Regions from separate parts of the Homo sapiens genome. Here region 1 is linked to region 2. The links come from fine-mapping of genetic effects on gene expression. A gene starts in region 2. The other region holds a variant in brackets. All regions are shown on one strand. Distances are from middle to middle.

Region 1 (8,338 bases), 37 kb before region 2:
AATAGAGGTTTCACAAATTTCTTGTAAGGATTATTCCTGGCAGTCTGTTTTCCTAATGCTCATGTAAGTATAATTTTTTTGTTTTGGTTTTATTTCCAATTATTTCTGGTATTTAGAAAACTATTGATTTTTAAAATATTTATCTTCAGGCCAGGTGTGGTGGTGCACGCCTGTAATCCCATCACTTTGGGAGGTCGAGGCAGATGGATCACGAAGTCAAGAGGTTGAGACCATCCTGGTCAACATGGTGAAACTCTATCTTTACTAAAAATACAAACATTAGCTGGGCATGGTGGCGGGTGCCTGTAGTCCCAGCTACTCAGGAGGCTGAGGCAGGAGAATCACTTGAACCTGGGAGGCGGAGGTTGCCCTGAGCCAAGGTCACGCCACTGGACTCCAGCCTGGCAACAGAGCAAGACTCCGTCTCAAAAAAAAAAATTATCTTCAAACTTTTTTCTGTCTAAGCAGATGCTCAAGTGAGTAACAAGATGCTAGTCTCCCCAGAGGATGGACAAACATATTCAGTTTCATGAGCAGAGTGGGGTAGGGATGGCAGATGCACTTTTGAAAACTGCACACCCAGCGAGACTTACTTCACATTCCGTGGCTTAAAAGAAGGAGGATGAGATATATGCAGGAGTTAGTGGTAGAGCCAAGTCTTCATTAGTGCCTCTCAGTAAAAGCAGGAGGTGGCTGGTGGCTCTCTAAACATTGTCCTTGGCTTTGAGCCATGAAAACAGGAAAAATTTTGTTTGATATCCTATTATATAGCATCACAGACAGACACAAACTTGCATATATACACATTTTTCATAATTAATAGAAGTTTCTTCATTGTTCTAATAGCATGCACACACACGGTATTCCACTAGACACTAGATTAAGAGGTTTCCTCCTGCTGCTGTTATCTAGTTCTCTGAATATTATGTAAATTTAATCACGACAAAACTCAACTGGATTTCCTCAACTCCTCCTTCCTCCCTCACCTTACCACAGCTAATTGAACAAGTCCCACTTACTGCTTCCAAACATGCCCTGACCCTGGTGCCTTTTCCCCATTCCCCTGCAGCCACCCCCTTGAAAGCCACCATGCTCTCTCTCCCAAGCTGCTGCACTCCTGCTCACCGGTCCTCTCACCTTCTCTCTCACACCCCTTCCATCCATTTCCACACGGCAAACAGGAGGATCTTAGAAAATATAAACCAGATTTTGTGAATCATCACTGAAAACCTTTCAACAACTTCCCATTGGCCTTAGAATGAAGTTTAGACTCATTGCTGTGGCCACTCCAGCATGTGAGGTCTGGCCTTCCCTTGTCTGTTTTGTCTCATCTGGATCCACTCTCCTTGAAAGTCTCAGCCACCAAACTCCATCTACTTGGCCTGTACAGTTCCTCAAACAAGATGAACTCCTTGCAGCCTCAGCCTTTGCTTTAACTGTTCCCTCTACCTAGAATGTGACCTATTGGATCTTCTCCTGACAAGCTTCTTTCTGACATTGGAAACTCAAGTTAAAGGGCACCTCGTCAAAGAGGCTGTACCCGACCATCCCCATCGTAAGGTGCTATTTATTCACCATATTCCTTTAGCCTCTTTCCATTAACTGGGTGATTATTGTCATTCTCTGGCTTTTAAAATTCTCTGTGTGTCATCTGTCTCCTTCTCAGCAGAATGCAGGCTTCCTGAGGGCAGGACCTTGTCCTTGACTGTCTCCCCAGTGCCTAGAAGACAGTCTTGCATGTAGGAGGGCCTCAGTAATGCTCAATGAATGAATGGATTCTTGATCATTTCAAGCAAGTGATACTTCTTTAGTCTGAAAACTACAATCCTCAGATCTTCTTCTCTCTTTTGGGGATTTCATTAACTGTTCACCAGTGGCCCCATTGCCTGTCCTATTTCACTCTTGGTTGCTGCTAGAATTTGTATTATCTGACATCGATTCAGGGAAAGAGGTGCTGTTGAACAGTAGTGGGATGAAAATTGAGGATAAAGGGGTGGCTTCAGCTGCCCCCAGTACAACTCTCTCAGTAAAAAGATGACTGCTGGCTTTCTGATTGATGGGCCAGACTTTTGGCAGAAGTGGCAACAGTGCATGCCAACATTTTTCTACCTTACTCCTGCTTGCCCCGGCACCTTTCAAAGCCTGGAAATGGAATGGCCATGACCTTGCTGAGCCATGACCCTTGAGGGCCAGTTAGTGAAAATTCTTGCACAGGTTGGCATACTGCTGATGGGTACTTCTTGTTTCTGGTGCCAAAAAATAACTTAATATATTGTGACTCTACACCCTTTTTGTGCTTAAATGGAAGTGTGACCATGAAGTTTGGGGAAAGTTAAGGTTTCACCACAGCGTAAAAGCCTACAGGCATTGCTGGCAATCTAACAAAGGTGATATTGAAATAGTTTTATTTTAAGCTCATATCATTCAAAATCAGCTTTAGAGAAATGTTTTAACGTATTCCCCAGTCTTTTCTTCACTTAGTCAACATGACTTCTATAAGTAATGCACAAATAGCATGCAACCAGTAAATAAAATCATAGTTGAAAATTATTATCAATTATCCTCCCAAGTCAAGTGCATTTGATGTGGACTTCTGTCTTCTAATCTATGAGATGGGCATAATAACAATAGTAGCTAATTCAAAGATGGTTGTTGAGGTTGAATAAAATAATCAGTATAAAACTCTGGAGAGAATGTGACACAAAACAAGTGCTCACTGATGTAGATTGAGGTTGATACTACTGTTATTTTCTCTATCTTAAAAATGTTGGCCGGGCGCGGTGGCTCACGCCTGTAATCCCAGCACTTTGGGAGGCCGAGGCGGGTGGATCATGAGGTCAGGAGATCGAGACCATCCTGGCTAACAAGGTGAAACCCCGTCTCTACTAAAAATACAAAAAATTAGCCGGGCGCGGTGGCGGGCGCCTGTAGTCCCAGCTACTCGGGAGGCTGAGGCAGGAGAATGGCGTGAACCCGGGAAGCGGAGCTTGCAGTGAGCCGAGATTGCGCCACTGCAGTCCGCAGTCCGGCCTGGGCGACAGAGCGAGACTCCGTCTCAAAAAAAAAAAAAAAAAAAAAAATGTTATGTGCAAAATGCCAGGGTTCATGAGAGATGTATTTATTAAGGGGAAGTTGCTGGGGTTTTTTTTTAAACTACATGTATATTATACTTGACGTTGCCTGAGCATGGCTAGAGGTGGGTGCATGTTTCTGCACACGAATGTGAGCAATGAGGAACAGACAGAGATACCTTAGGGAATGGTTTAGCTGACGGGTCCAGCAGAGCCCACTGAGGGCACTGCCTTTGTAGGCCTCCAGGACCCTGCTCTAATCCATAGCAGATTCATACAGTCATACAGGTTTGATTTTGTTGGTCCATGGAGGGTTGATCAGGATCTCAGGGGGAAAGAAGCCAGAGGTAGAAGACATCTAATATTTTGAGTGCTGATTGCCTGCAAAGCTGTGTGCTACACACGTTCTAATGCTATTTCATTTAACCCTAACAACCCCCATATGCCACCTTTTTTGTTTGTTCGTTTGTTTGTTAGAAGTGGAGGAAACTTAGGTTCATAGACTGTTCAAATGACTTGTCCACGGTAACACAGTGGTAATGGCGGACAGAATCAGCATCTGAACTCAGGTAAGTATGGTTTCAAATCCTCATCCTTTCTACTACACTGCACAGCCTCCCTTACAGACTGACATGCACTAAGCAATTTAACTTAAGAGACTGGGAAATAAATCAGAAAAACATTGCATTATTTTGCAATGATGTTTTAAACTTTTCCAGTGAGTGAAATACTTAAATCTGCCATTTTGGATATTCAGTTATGATTTTAAAAAATTACTTGAGAAGTAAAATTTCTAATCAGAAGAAAAGTTACCTAGTTTGGAGGGATCATTCTGAGCTTATTGGATTCTGCTTGACCAACAGGCCTGGCCAAATCTCTCTGTTTTGGATGTTCCTCCCATGCAGGTTAGCTACTGCTCTGACCAGCCCAAGGTCTGAGGAAGGCAGCATTGGGCACCAAGGCACAAACTTCTTTCCTTGTCCTTGCTCCTTTTCCTCTGTCGCCAGTGGGTCTACTCTGTGTGCCCTTTTGCTGACCTGGGAGCGGTAAGATCTACTTGTGTTGGGACTTGCAGTAGAATGGACAGAACTAGTAATTTGGCCTGCTCTGGCCTGCGGCTACTTTGGCCTCCACTTCCTCCAGTTGGTCTAGCCTGATTGACCAGACGTCCACAGAAGTGCTCGGGGCCAGAGCTCCAGCTAAGTAACGGTGATGACTTGCTTTGCTGTCTCCTGACCTTGCTCTGTTGTGGATCCCTGACAGGGAGAGTGAAGTGAAATATTCCTAAATCTTAGGCAAAATAATGACACATGACTTTAATCTCATAATTGTCCCCAACATTCTGTATATGACTGCCAGATTCCACATTTTTCTCTCCTGGACACAGTTAGATAAACACTGCCAAATCCTTGGTTTTAAGATTCCCTAACTAAACTCCATGTAAACCAACATCCTTCTGCGAAAACACTTCATTTTCAGACGAAATTACAACATTCCAGTGTTCTTTTACATCAGCCCCAATTCTGATTAAACTTTGATGAGACTGCATTTCAATGGCAATCTTGCTTTCATCGGACTTCATGATTTCTCCAGTTTTATAGCCCCAAACTTGAAGACCTTCTCTTTCTGTGATGTATATCTCTAAATAGCTACTTTATCCATTTATTAGGTATCAGTCCTATATTTTCAATCACAGAGCTTAATCTTATTTCCAACTTTGGGGCACCTAAATTTAGTCTATTTATGCCTGACTTTGTTAAGTTGATTTGTTGATGACCACTCTTCTAGAGACACATGGAAAATTTGTTAACAAACTTATTTTTGAACAGGATGGTTGTACTGAATGATTACATATGGCAGGAGTCTGGGGAAAATTTTTACTTATCTCCATTCT[A/G]GGGACATCTACTGCAAATTCCATAATAGACTCTCATTCCTCTATTATCTGAGCTATTTGAATTACCTCAATAAAGCTGTTTCCTCCTCTTTCTTCACTCAGGAAATACAGAGTTCTCATGACTGAACAGGGAAAGTAAGAGGTTTAGAAAGAATAAGATGGATCTGAGAGTTTTCAAAATCACTTGATAACCCATTATTATCCAAAGACTACCTACATAATCATATACTTTCCATACAAAGTTAAACTTAAAAAGTCCTTTGAGGTTCAATACCTACACACTTGAATACACCATAATACTGAACTTTAGTTGTTTTGAGAAGACAAAATAAAACTCATTTTAAATGTATTGAACTGAAAAGGCAGAGAAATTATTCCCTGAACAAGCAGGCTTTCTTTTTAAGGCTATTTTTATTCCTCATTGAATGTCAACATGTACTATGAGGTACATAGACATGGAAATAATTCTAAATTTCTGACAGGCGGGGCCAATGGTTCATGGTTCAGGAAAGAACGTTTAGTCTGGAAATGCTCTAATTTAGAGAAACTTAAAGGGGAGGCAACTGAACTGAAAATCTCTAAAGTGCTGCTCCATTGTGGCTTGTGCTACTCTCATGTTTATTCATCTGTATACATCAACAGCCCTTTGGACTGAGAATTTATGGTGATAAATGTTTTCTCCTCCTCCCCTACATCCTTCTTTTTTCTTCTTCCATTCCTCTTCCTTCTCTTTCTTCTTCTCTTCTTCCTCTTCTTTTTCTCTTCTCCTTCTCCTTCTCCCTCTTCCTCTTCCTCTTCCTCCTCTTCCTCTTCCTCCTCCTCCTCCTCTTATTCTTCTTCCTCTTCCTCTTCTTCTTCTTCTTCTTCTTCCTCTTCTTCTTCGTGTCCTCCTCCTCCCCTTCCTGCTCCTTCTTCTTCACCTCTTTTTGCTGCTTGGGATATAGTTAGTTTGAGCTAGATAGGATTATAGGATTGCTATCATCATGATATTTTTTGTATTAAGGATAGGACATATATGGATCTAAGTAACGTCTTCAGTCCCAAGATGTTTGAAGTTTTAAAATACATCTAAACATCTTTGCAGTGCTATTAGTTATTTTTTATGTGATAAGAGTTATGGTGATAGGAACATAGGTTTACCTGGAGGAAATTATGAAAGGTGTTAAGTACAGGGAGGTTTAAGTTATAAGAAACATCATAAAAACATACACTTTTCCTGGGCTTGAGATGATGTCATTTTGCCCACTCCCATTATTCTAATGTCCACTTTAAGGTTATTAAAATGTCCTAAGATCATTCAAGACAGGGCAGTCTACATCTTCACTTCATTATCCCCAAGCCCTCAGAGATGCCACAGCTACTGAGACAAGGTCACCTAACACTTTAGAATCAGAAAGTTCTTTAAAAGCAAAGGGCTCTTCTGAAAAGAGACTAAATTGCAACTGCTTCCCGTATGTGCCCATCAACTAATGTGATCACAGAACTGCTTTAGAAACAACTTTTATCTTAGTTTTTTCCTCATCAAAGATTTTCAATTTAGTTTTTACACATTTTAATTTTTCTTAAAAAAGAATCCCCCATTTTATAATTGAATTTAATATAAAACTAAGCTTTGCTAAAATGCACTTATATAATAAGAGAGGACAGATATACCACGATCCCGCAAGAAAGGTATCATTTCTGGTATCAGGAGTGAAACAAAACCAACAGACCCTAAGTTTTTCTAATACATATATCAATACCCACATGTCTATCCCAAAACTACACTTTTAATTAAGCAGGTTTGTGTATTTGGTTAACTGGGGACTTTTCAATAGTTAGATTGGTGCCTCCTGATTGGGAAACTAAGACCAGTGATTTCCCAACAGGTATTCTCCCAGGCTGACTGAGAAACTAATCAACTAGGGCTGAGAGGTTATTAAGTAACATATTCTAGGCTTGAAAACCCATTTCTCACAATAACAGATAATGCCTTGACTTCTTTTTTTTACATAATTTTCTTTATTAAAATCATAGAGGTTATGTAAAAATGGCAATAATGCTAGTAATGTTTAAGTAACAAGAGTACCTATTTTGCCATCAGTTATCTTGGTGAAGGAAAGGAATACTTAGCTGTGTGATTTAAACAGTTGTATGTTAAAATAAATATACAATATGCCATTGGGAATGATATAACTGCAACCACAACACAACACATGCATATACTCAGATTACTTAAATCCTGAGTGTGTTGTATTCATTGCACATTATTTCTTTTTAAAAAAGTTATTATTATTATTTATTATTATACTTTAAGTTCTGGGGTACATGTGCAGAACGTGCAGGTTTGTTACATAGATATACACGTGCTGTGGTGGTTTGCTGCACCCATCAACCCATCATCTACATTAGATATTTCTCTTAATGCTATCCCTCCCCTAGCCCCCCACCCCCTGGCAGGCCCCAGTGTGTGATGTTCCCTTCCCTGTGTCCATGCGTTCTCATTGTTCAACTCCCACTTATGAGTGAGAACATGTGGTGGTTGGTTTTCTGTTCTTGTGTTAGTTTGCTGAGAATGATGGTTTCCAGCTTCATCCATGTCCCTACAAAGGACATAAACTCATTCTTTTTTATGGCTGCATAGTATTCCATGGTGTATATGTGCCACATTTTCTTTATCTAGTCTAACATTGATGGGTATTTGGGTTGGTTCCAAGTCTTTGATATTATTTCTAAATTATAGGATAGTTATAGCCCACTCCTTGAATGCTGAGACTACATTATATTTTCCAACTTTAAATATGAAATAAATATTGAAAATAAGTGTTCATTTTTGCTCTAATGAAAACAGTATAAATTTTAAAATTAGGATATCATTAAGGGAAGCATCTCTCTCCCTGAATAAACTATACAACAAATCATAGGCCCAGTATTTTTTCTACACATGCAGTTGAGCTAATAATTCTGCTTTAAAACAAATAAAAATATGTTCTAATCATTTATTATCTTAGCATCATTCCAAAAAGAGATGGTTGTTGATATCAGAATATCCATAAATAAAGTTAAATTTGTCTCTTAAAGAGGTGTTCACCTACAAAGCCTTCAAATATCACCAGTTATTCACAAGTCTTTGGCTGAGGAGGCTTACTCTGTCATTCAATATAAATTATTTTCACTCAACAAGAATGACAAGAATGGCATTCCTGCATTTGAGGTGCTTTCTGTGGATGTAGAAAGACAAGATCTACGTAAGTGGAAAAATGTAAAAACACCCCATATGCTGCAGGTAGATATATAGGCAAAGTGATTTAAAATAACAGAGGCAACATTGAGAAAATGAAGGCTTTTATTTGTTTGTTTGTTTGTTTGTTTGTTTGCTTATTTGAGACAGGGT
Region 2 (8,338 bases):
ACAAATCCTTAATAGAACATGTACGACTGGTGATGAAATAATATTCCAAGATACCAGACTGTGCATATTGTTTTACTGCCTCTCTGCTCACTCTGCATTAAGAGCTTCATTGATTCCAACACCCAAGCCACCATTTTGTAAGGGGGAGCCTATAGTTACTGGTGGCCTGAGAGGGTTCATTGTGTATCAACGCTGCTTCCCCTATAAAGTTCAACATGCTGCCTGAAATATGAAAATCATCTTCTTGATTTCCTTCAGTCTTTCAAATAAATACTTGTGAATTTAATCAAGGAGTCAGAAAAGACAGTTGGAATTAGAAAATAAAATGGTATCAATTACTAATATTTCCCATTTGCTGCTCAGGCTTGTCTTATCTGAAGCTTGTAAAGTTGTTTAATCTTTTCCATCATCTCAGGGAAAACAGAGCCTGGAAAATCCTAGTCATTCCACAGTAACTATCAATGGGATTTTCCATAACTATCTGGATGCAAAATGAAAATCTTAAGAAGTTGATCCAATTCTAAAACTTACTTCTCAACTTACTCATAAATATGAAGAGACAACTCATCCATATTTTCTTCAAATAACATCTGGTTGCTTGGCCAGACTGTTAATACCTGAAAAAGTTTCTGAGTTTGTTCCAACAAATCTACACTTAAAGAGCTTAAAAATGTGTTTATGCATTAAACATTCTTTTCCACATCTGACTTAGGGCCAGCGATGTGACTGTCAGAAAGAACCTTGCCAAGAACTCGGAAAGAAAGGGAAAACAATGTCTTTTAGAAGTTTAACTGTGAAACCAGCACCTATTGGATTAGGGCAGAGGAATGAGAAATCACCGCAAAGGGACAAAAATGCTTCTAAGCCAGCAAGAGTTGGCTGTGACTCCACTAAAGGTATAAAACACACATCTAAAGGCTATATTAGTCAGTCATGGAGTCATGGAAGAAGGGTTGCTCAGACAGACTTGAGCAGTACTCACCAAGGGTCCATTCTGAGTGGAAGGGGTCAGGAACAGCACAGTTGGGGTAGCACAGAACCACCACCAAGTCATCTCTATTGTGAAAATCAATGCATCACTTTGCCTTTGCCTGATTACCATTAAACCTTACCCCAGGCTGGCCTGTCTTATTCATGATGGAAAACTCCACATTGAGCATACAGCCTAACCTAGGGCAGGCAATCATTAGATGTTTGCTCAATGAATTTGCTCCAACTCTTTGCTCACAACTGCCTGATGATAATTTGGCTCCCCACATAGTTCTGACTACAGGGAGAGAATGACCTAGTCTGGTGGATTTGAGAATGCTGGTCCTCATGCCAGCAATAAGACTCATTGAAGTAGACAGGTTTAGCATTTGAGTTTCCTTACTCGAAGGTTGTTCCCAAAGGAAGGGTCTGTGTGTGCTGCTGTATCAAGTTTCTGAGCCCAAAGGGCTGGCAGCAAGTCTCTGGGCTATGGTAACTTTACCAGGATAATGATGATAGTGGTAGCGATGGGACCAACCTTGGCCATGAACAGAGCATCTTGTGCGTACTATCAGACATTGTACTGTATGTTTTATACACTTGAGCTCATTTAATTCCCATAATAATCCAATAAATTAGGCATTATAAGTATTCACATTTTGTAAATGAGGATACTGAGACTCAGAAAGCTTTATTAACTTACCCAAAGACCCATATTCAGAGTCTGGATTCAGATCCAGATTTGTCTGACTCTAAAGTCTAATTTTTTTAATTGTAAAAAAAAAAATACTACCTTTGGAGAGATGAACCCTTATCCTTCTCTTTGACACACTCCTCTGCTTCAGCAGTGTGCTCTCGGCCATCCCAGTCCATCTTCAATATGACTATTCATCAATGCGCCACTACTGTACAAGTCTTCACATAAAATTACATAGGATACCAATGCACCCTTAATTAGAAGTGCACAAAGTCAAGCCCTGTTGCAAGGAACAGCATCACCATCTACCCTATGCCATCAGTACCATTAGCTTCACAAGCCAAAAATGGGGGCCTCTTTAACGTTTTCCTCTCCCTCACCACGCCTGCCACAACCCGTCCAATCATGTACATTTTCCTCAGTTGAACCTCTTCAATACTTCCCTAATGCATTCACTTGCCCCCTGTTCACCATTTCCATCGCTACTACCCATCTCTCACCTGGACCACTACGACAATCTCCAAGATTGTGTTCTCACTTCCACTTTTGCTCCACATGGCTCCATTTTGTGTCCACATCTTGGGAATGCATTCTTAAGGACACATCCAGGGATCTTTATATAATCTAATCACAAATTCCACTGTTTAAAACTCCTCAGTATGACCCTTCGCCATGTCCTGGGCTTCAGCCCTAATAGTGAGTGGTCTGTGGTTTTTGGAATTTACTCAGCTCTAAAAACTCCGGGATGGCACACACATACCAGGCATGGATACACCTGCATCCCCCTGGACCAGCAGTCTCTCCACATCTCCCTGGAAAACCTGTACAGGTGTTTTGGAACTCACTCTCATTTCAGCTCCTCCAGGAAGCCTGGGTTAGGTGCCCAACTGAGTTCTTCTCATCACAACCCCAGCTCTCACCCCTCATCCCACTGTATGGAAATTTTTTTTATTTATGTGACTTCACCTCCAGACTCTGACCTCCCTGAAAGCCAGGAGCCATTCTGTTTATACACAGTGCCTAACATGAACAAATGCTTGTTAAATAAATGAATGAATGTGAACCTGGTATACCATAGGCGTCAGAACCCCCCCCTAGCTTCCTCAAGCATTAGCTGTGTGATCTTAAGAAAGTTGCTTAATCTCCCTAGACCTCAGAGTTATTGTCTGTAAAATGGAGATCATAAAACCTATACTGTCAAGTTATTGTGAGATTTAAACTAAATTATATAATAGATGTAAAGTCCTCAGTGTCATGCCTCATATATAATAAGTATGCAACTGTTAGTTGTTATTATTATTACTGTGCCCTTCAAGACCCTACTGAAAACATTCATGTTCTTGAAAGACTTCGAATCAATTCCCAGTCCACCATGATGACTGTGCTGCTCTGTGCTGCATTTCATAATGCATTATTTTGCACCCTTGATATTGTTTGAAAGGGTCTGCCCTTTCCGTACTTTCTTCAAGTCGCCTAATACTTGAACAAATGCTTTTAGAATAAATGATATTATCAAGTTTGGTTTTGTTCTATAAACTAATGGTGCCCTTTTGCTATAGATCTTACAGTCCATTGGCGTTTCAAACCATGGAAATTCACTTTGCAACTCCTAATGATGCAAATGCCATAAAGAGAGGCCAGTGAGAGGAACACACTTAGGGGGAACGGCAGGGCTCTGGAAGGGAGACAGGTGGTGATCCCAAATTAGAAATCAGGTCTTAAAGGGGCCACAAGCGAGATGACATCTCAAAAAGAGGGTTTCCTTTGTCACAACAGATGTGAAAAGGTGAATGGTCAGACCAATACTTAAAAGAAACTTACAGCTTTGCCCCTGTAAGCGATACTGTGCAGCCATTAAAAATAGGAGGCAAGCTAATAAAATGGCAAATAAGAACATATAAGGGACAATGTTAAGTTAAAAAAAGATTCAGATAACGTATGGCTTTTGATCATAGTATGTAAAATTTGCTTTAAAATAAACAAAAAACTTAAAAGGAGTAGACCAAAATTTTAATGCTGTAACAATTTGCTAAGTTTGTGGGTGAAATTTTCTTTTTATCACTTTCCCATACCGTTTGTAATCTTGCCATATTCTTTTAAAATACAAAAAGTATTTCTTAGAAAATACATATTCTGCGTGCCTCTCTAGCAGATGTCTCTAGAAAGAAATGAGATAGCGCAGAAGACACGCCCTAGACTGCAGGGGGCTCCATGAGCCCAGAGCCTGACTCAGCAGCGTGAGAACAGGGGCGAACCTGGGCATGGGGCACTCTGCAGCTTGATCCCGCCCTGGATGGGTCCCTTCTTTACCTGCCACCGCCTCGCTGGGTGTTACTGAGTCCCCCGCCAGCAGGCCGCCCTCGGTGGGCGCAGCGCCCCTCCCAGTCCCGGACCATGCTATCCCCAAGAGACCCTCCTCGCGAAAGATCTCTCTGGGAGAAGGGAGGAGCTGCAAGGGGCCGGAAAGAGTTACAGGGCGCAGGCCTCTGCGACCTCGCCCTCCCCATGCCCGCGCGGCTCCCTACTCCCGCCCCGCGGGCCGATGACCTGTACCTCTTGCAGGGGATCAGCGCCTTCCTCTCGTCCAGCACCCGCACGCGCTGGTTGAGCCCGTCGTAGGAGAGCAGGGCGCGGCTGTTGCGCCCGCTACTTTGCTGGTACATAACCTGGCGCCCCTCCCACTGCTGCGGCGCCTGGCACGGGCGCGGGGCTCCCACCGCCCCCAGGCTGCACAGGCCGCACAGGGTCCAGGCCCAGAGGCCGCCCAGCAGCCAGGCACCCAGGGCGCCCGGGACGGTGCGGAGGGGAGCGCGTCCTGGCATCGCGGTCAGCCTTCCCCGGCCCGAGGGCAAGCCCAAGCCCAAGGGGGCGCTGAGGCGTCCGGGATCAGAGTGGCTCCCGCCGGCTCTTTCCGCACTGTGCCGGGAGTGTGGTCTGGACCAAAGTGCTTCCTGTCCCTTCGGTGGCCTCTGCCGCTTTTGAGATCCGGACGCGCGAGTCCCGGTAGCCGGGACCAGGGCCCGGGGAAGGCTCCAGTGAATCGCGCGGGAGCTATTTCTGCCTGGGCCACTGCCTGCTGCCACTGCCTGCTGCCACTGCCTTCTGCCGCTTCGGTTTTCACTGCTCACTGCTGCCAACAGGAAATGCAGTGGCAGTGGTGCCACTAGCATCCTGGGAGGCATCGTGTTTTAAGAGGGGGGATGGGGGGAGACTGTGCTGAGAAGTGTGTTTCTCCACTAACTTCAGTGTTCAACAGGTAATCACACAGGGAGGGGCAAGTTCAAGGTCAAGATAGGAAAAGCAGAGCTGCTGCGTTTGCTGTGCAAACGTTTGCCCCGCCTACATTGCCCCTCGACAAAATTGCAAACTTCTTCCTCCAAATTAAAAGTGGAAAGACGAGTCTTTTCCTGAAGAAATGATACTAGCTATTCATCATGGCCGCTCCTCAGCTCCCATTCCCAGTGAAGAGTCTAGGAGACTAGTAGACAGCCCCTTGCATTGGGCCTAGGACTCATGGACATAGCCTCAAGGTCACATTGCAGTGAGACTGCTCCTCCCATCGCCTGGCAATACCACCAGCCGAGTGGTTTGGGTGTCTGGGGGGTTTCGCTTCTTCAAGAATAAGGTTAATTGGGTTTATAGTTATGTAATGTTAGGATCTATAATATGGAATGAGCGAGGCTCACACACCTGTAGTCCCAGCTACTCCTGAGGCTGAAGTGGGAGGATCGCTTGAGCCCAGGAGTTAGAGGTTGCAGTGAGCTATGATCATGCCACTGCACTCCATCCAGCCTGGGTGACATGGCGAGACCCTGTCTCTAAAAATATAGTGATAAAGTATGAAATCAAGAAAAAAGAAAGGAACTAAAAAAATGTATAGCGTCTTTCCATTTGAACTGCATTTCAAGGATGATTAAGATTGAGCCAGGTGAAAGTGGGAGATAACATTCCTGAATGAAGGGCATAAGGACAAGAAAAGAATAATGCTGGGGTTCAAGGACAAGGTAGAGGAGTACTCTGAAGCCATAGCACTCATTTTAAGGAATTTGTCATTGATATTGAGGACTGTGGGAACTATCAATCAATGTAAAGCTAGGGAGGAGCATCATCAGGCATATGCTTTAGAAAGCCCACTTAGACAACAGAAAGGGTAGGGCCAGAGGGAAGGCAGGGAGAGGAGGAAGCTACTGTTATCATCCTGGAAAGAGATGATCCTGACTCAGCTAAGGCAGCGGGAGTGGTCATGGAAAGGGTGGAAGACAGGTGGGAGCTGTAGAGAAGCATTTCAACTCAGAGAGAGAGGTTTCTGGTTTGGGCCACTGGGAATCCAGTCCTGAGTGAGGAGAGATGATCAATTCATTTTAGGATTGGTTGATCTTGAGCTGACTGTGGAGTATTAAGGTGGAAATATCCAAGGGACAGCTGGATAAATACTTCTGGAAACCAGCAGAGCTTTTGGATTAGGAAGCCATAGGTACATAGGTGGTAAATGAAGCCGAAGAGTAGAACAGTGGTTCCTGGGGAAATTTCACATCCCCCTCCCCAGCAAAGAAACATTTGGCAATATCTGGAGACATTTTTGATGATCACAATGTAGATGGGGAGGAGGCTACCGCTGACATTTTGTGGGTAGAGGCCAAGGATGCTACTAAACTTCCTACAATGTGCAGTACAGCCACCTCCCCTCTCCCAAATGAAGAGAAAATTATCTGGCCCCAAATGTCCTAAGTGTTGGGGGTGAGAAAACCTGGAGTTCAGGGGAGTGTTGAGTGTGAGAAGAAGGATTAGGATGGAGCCCCAGAGAGCTCCAGACATTTAAAGGATGGGCAAAGAACAGGCACTTGAGGAGACCAAAAGGAGTCACCAGAGAGAAGCCACTGAATGAGGCAACTTCCCGAGCCTTGTTAAATAAATGTAAGGCATGGAAAGAATGGACTGAATGCTGAAGTAGGGTGTTCTAGAATCACAGCCTCCCTGGAAGTCCCGAAGAGGAGGGACAGTTGACAGGTTTTCCTGATGCATCCTTCTCTGCTGCCCCCTGTCTGTCGAACCACCAGAGACACTACCAATGGGCCGAATGGGGCAGGCACAAAGCTTTAGGAAGAAGGGCTCTTCATTTCCTCTTACCTTTTCTTAAAGGGCATGCCTCAGAGAACATCAGGGAAGCCCATAAGACTTTGTGACTTGGTACTTACATAGTTAAACAGATGCAGCAGGTTCAAACTGGCTGCAGAAATTTGAGCCCTCTCCGAGTTTGCCCTGCTCAGATTCATAGGAAAAGTGTAGGGTAGTTCAGCTCTTTCTCTTGCTCCCCAGGTAGGAACTCCAGCTGAAAATCTTTTTCACCCAGTGAAGGGTTTAGACTCATTGGAGTTTACTGCTAGAAATGGCTTGAGATGTCATCTGGGCTTTCCTCCTCATGTGATATTTTACTAGCCTGGCTTGGCATCTTTGGAGGTGGAGACTGGTTCTATAGGAACTAGATTACCTTTCTAGAGTGGCTTGGCAGTGTAAGAACACCCTGGGCTTCCCCTAAATAAGAACCAGACTCTTTGGATGAATCCTGAAATGTATTTGTCTCATTTATCCTTTTCACTTACTATGTTTAATTCATGTTCCCTAAAAAATAAGATAATGCATTTAAAGTTCTTAGCTTCATACCTTGACCATTGTAAATTCCCAATAGATGTCACTTGTGCTTGTTGTTTCCTCAGCTGTTTTAATCCTTAGTCTTTAGTTTTAATCCTCAGTCAAAACTAAACTAATTGTGTAGGTTTAAGCTTTGGAGAGAAAAACCATGTGCCTTAAATTCAAGTTAAACTATGTTTTTAAAGATTAACATTCAGAGAACATGTTTCCATATTGCTGATGCCCTAATAAATAGCATATACCAGAAGTCTTACCACCTGAAGATTGATATACATCAATCTCATATAAATAAATCCTCCCTTTTCTGTAGATAGCTGAGCCAGCAATTGGACTACCTTTTCCTAATGCAAGTAAGATAAAAGAGAAAGCAAAACATACATACTTGCATCCCATAGTACACAGCTTCTTACTCAACTCAAGCAACAGTCTCTGAGCACATCAAAAATCAAGATTTTAGGCTGCTGAGGTGGAAATCCTTTGGCATGAAGGATCAGAGCAGGGGAGACCTTTCAGATTGTGGTGCCCAATGTTTTCTCCTGGGTTCCACTAATGCTGCAGAGGGGAACAGGGAGTTAGAAGGAAGAGGAAATGTTAGAAGACATTTCTGAAGCTGGAAGATGCTAGCACACCTTCCCCCAGTTCTGTTAACTTCCTGGAGCAGAAACAAACCAAGTGTTATACTGGAAAAATTTCGGCCCAAACTGTCTACTAGCAACAACAACAACAAACCACACTCCACACAACTAAGGGCGGAGTGGGAGTGATTTATACAACGTGACCCTCCTGTTCTGACATTCACTGCACTCTCGCCTGCCTTGCAGGACATTGTCCCAACTGTCCTCAGCGCTCCTCATGCCCCCTACCGGAGAAAGCAAATATATTTCAGAATTAGAGGGCAGCAGAAGCTCCTATTTTCCCCCAACTCTATACTTGGAAAAACTCTAAGGCAGAGGGAGCAAAGTTCAGTTTTCAGCCAAAGAGTGTCTTTCTCTCTCTTGAAATTCTCTCCCGCACCCTCTTGTA

The links. PIP is the estimated chance that this variant, and not a neighbour inherited with it, causes the effect. A credible set is the group of variants that fine-mapping cannot tell apart.
Region 1: its variant is the best candidate, but not a certain one, in a credible set for the expression of EPDR1 in whole blood (INTERVAL, PIP 0.50).

Annotation. Positions count from the first base shown.
Region 1 is chr7:37,953,652-37,961,989 of GRCh38, reverse strand. No RefSeq gene overlaps it. Among named protein-coding and RNA genes, the nearest start is that of EPDR1, 37 kb to the right of the region's middle. The variant A/G (reference allele first, on the strand shown) is at 4,966.
Region 2 is chr7:37,917,090-37,925,427 of GRCh38, reverse strand. EPDR1 (ependymin related 1) reads right to left here and starts at 4,788. Exons shown (of 3, transcript NM_017549.5): 1 at 4,220-4,788. The coding sequence starts at 4,488. RefSeq lists a silencer at 4,094-4,543.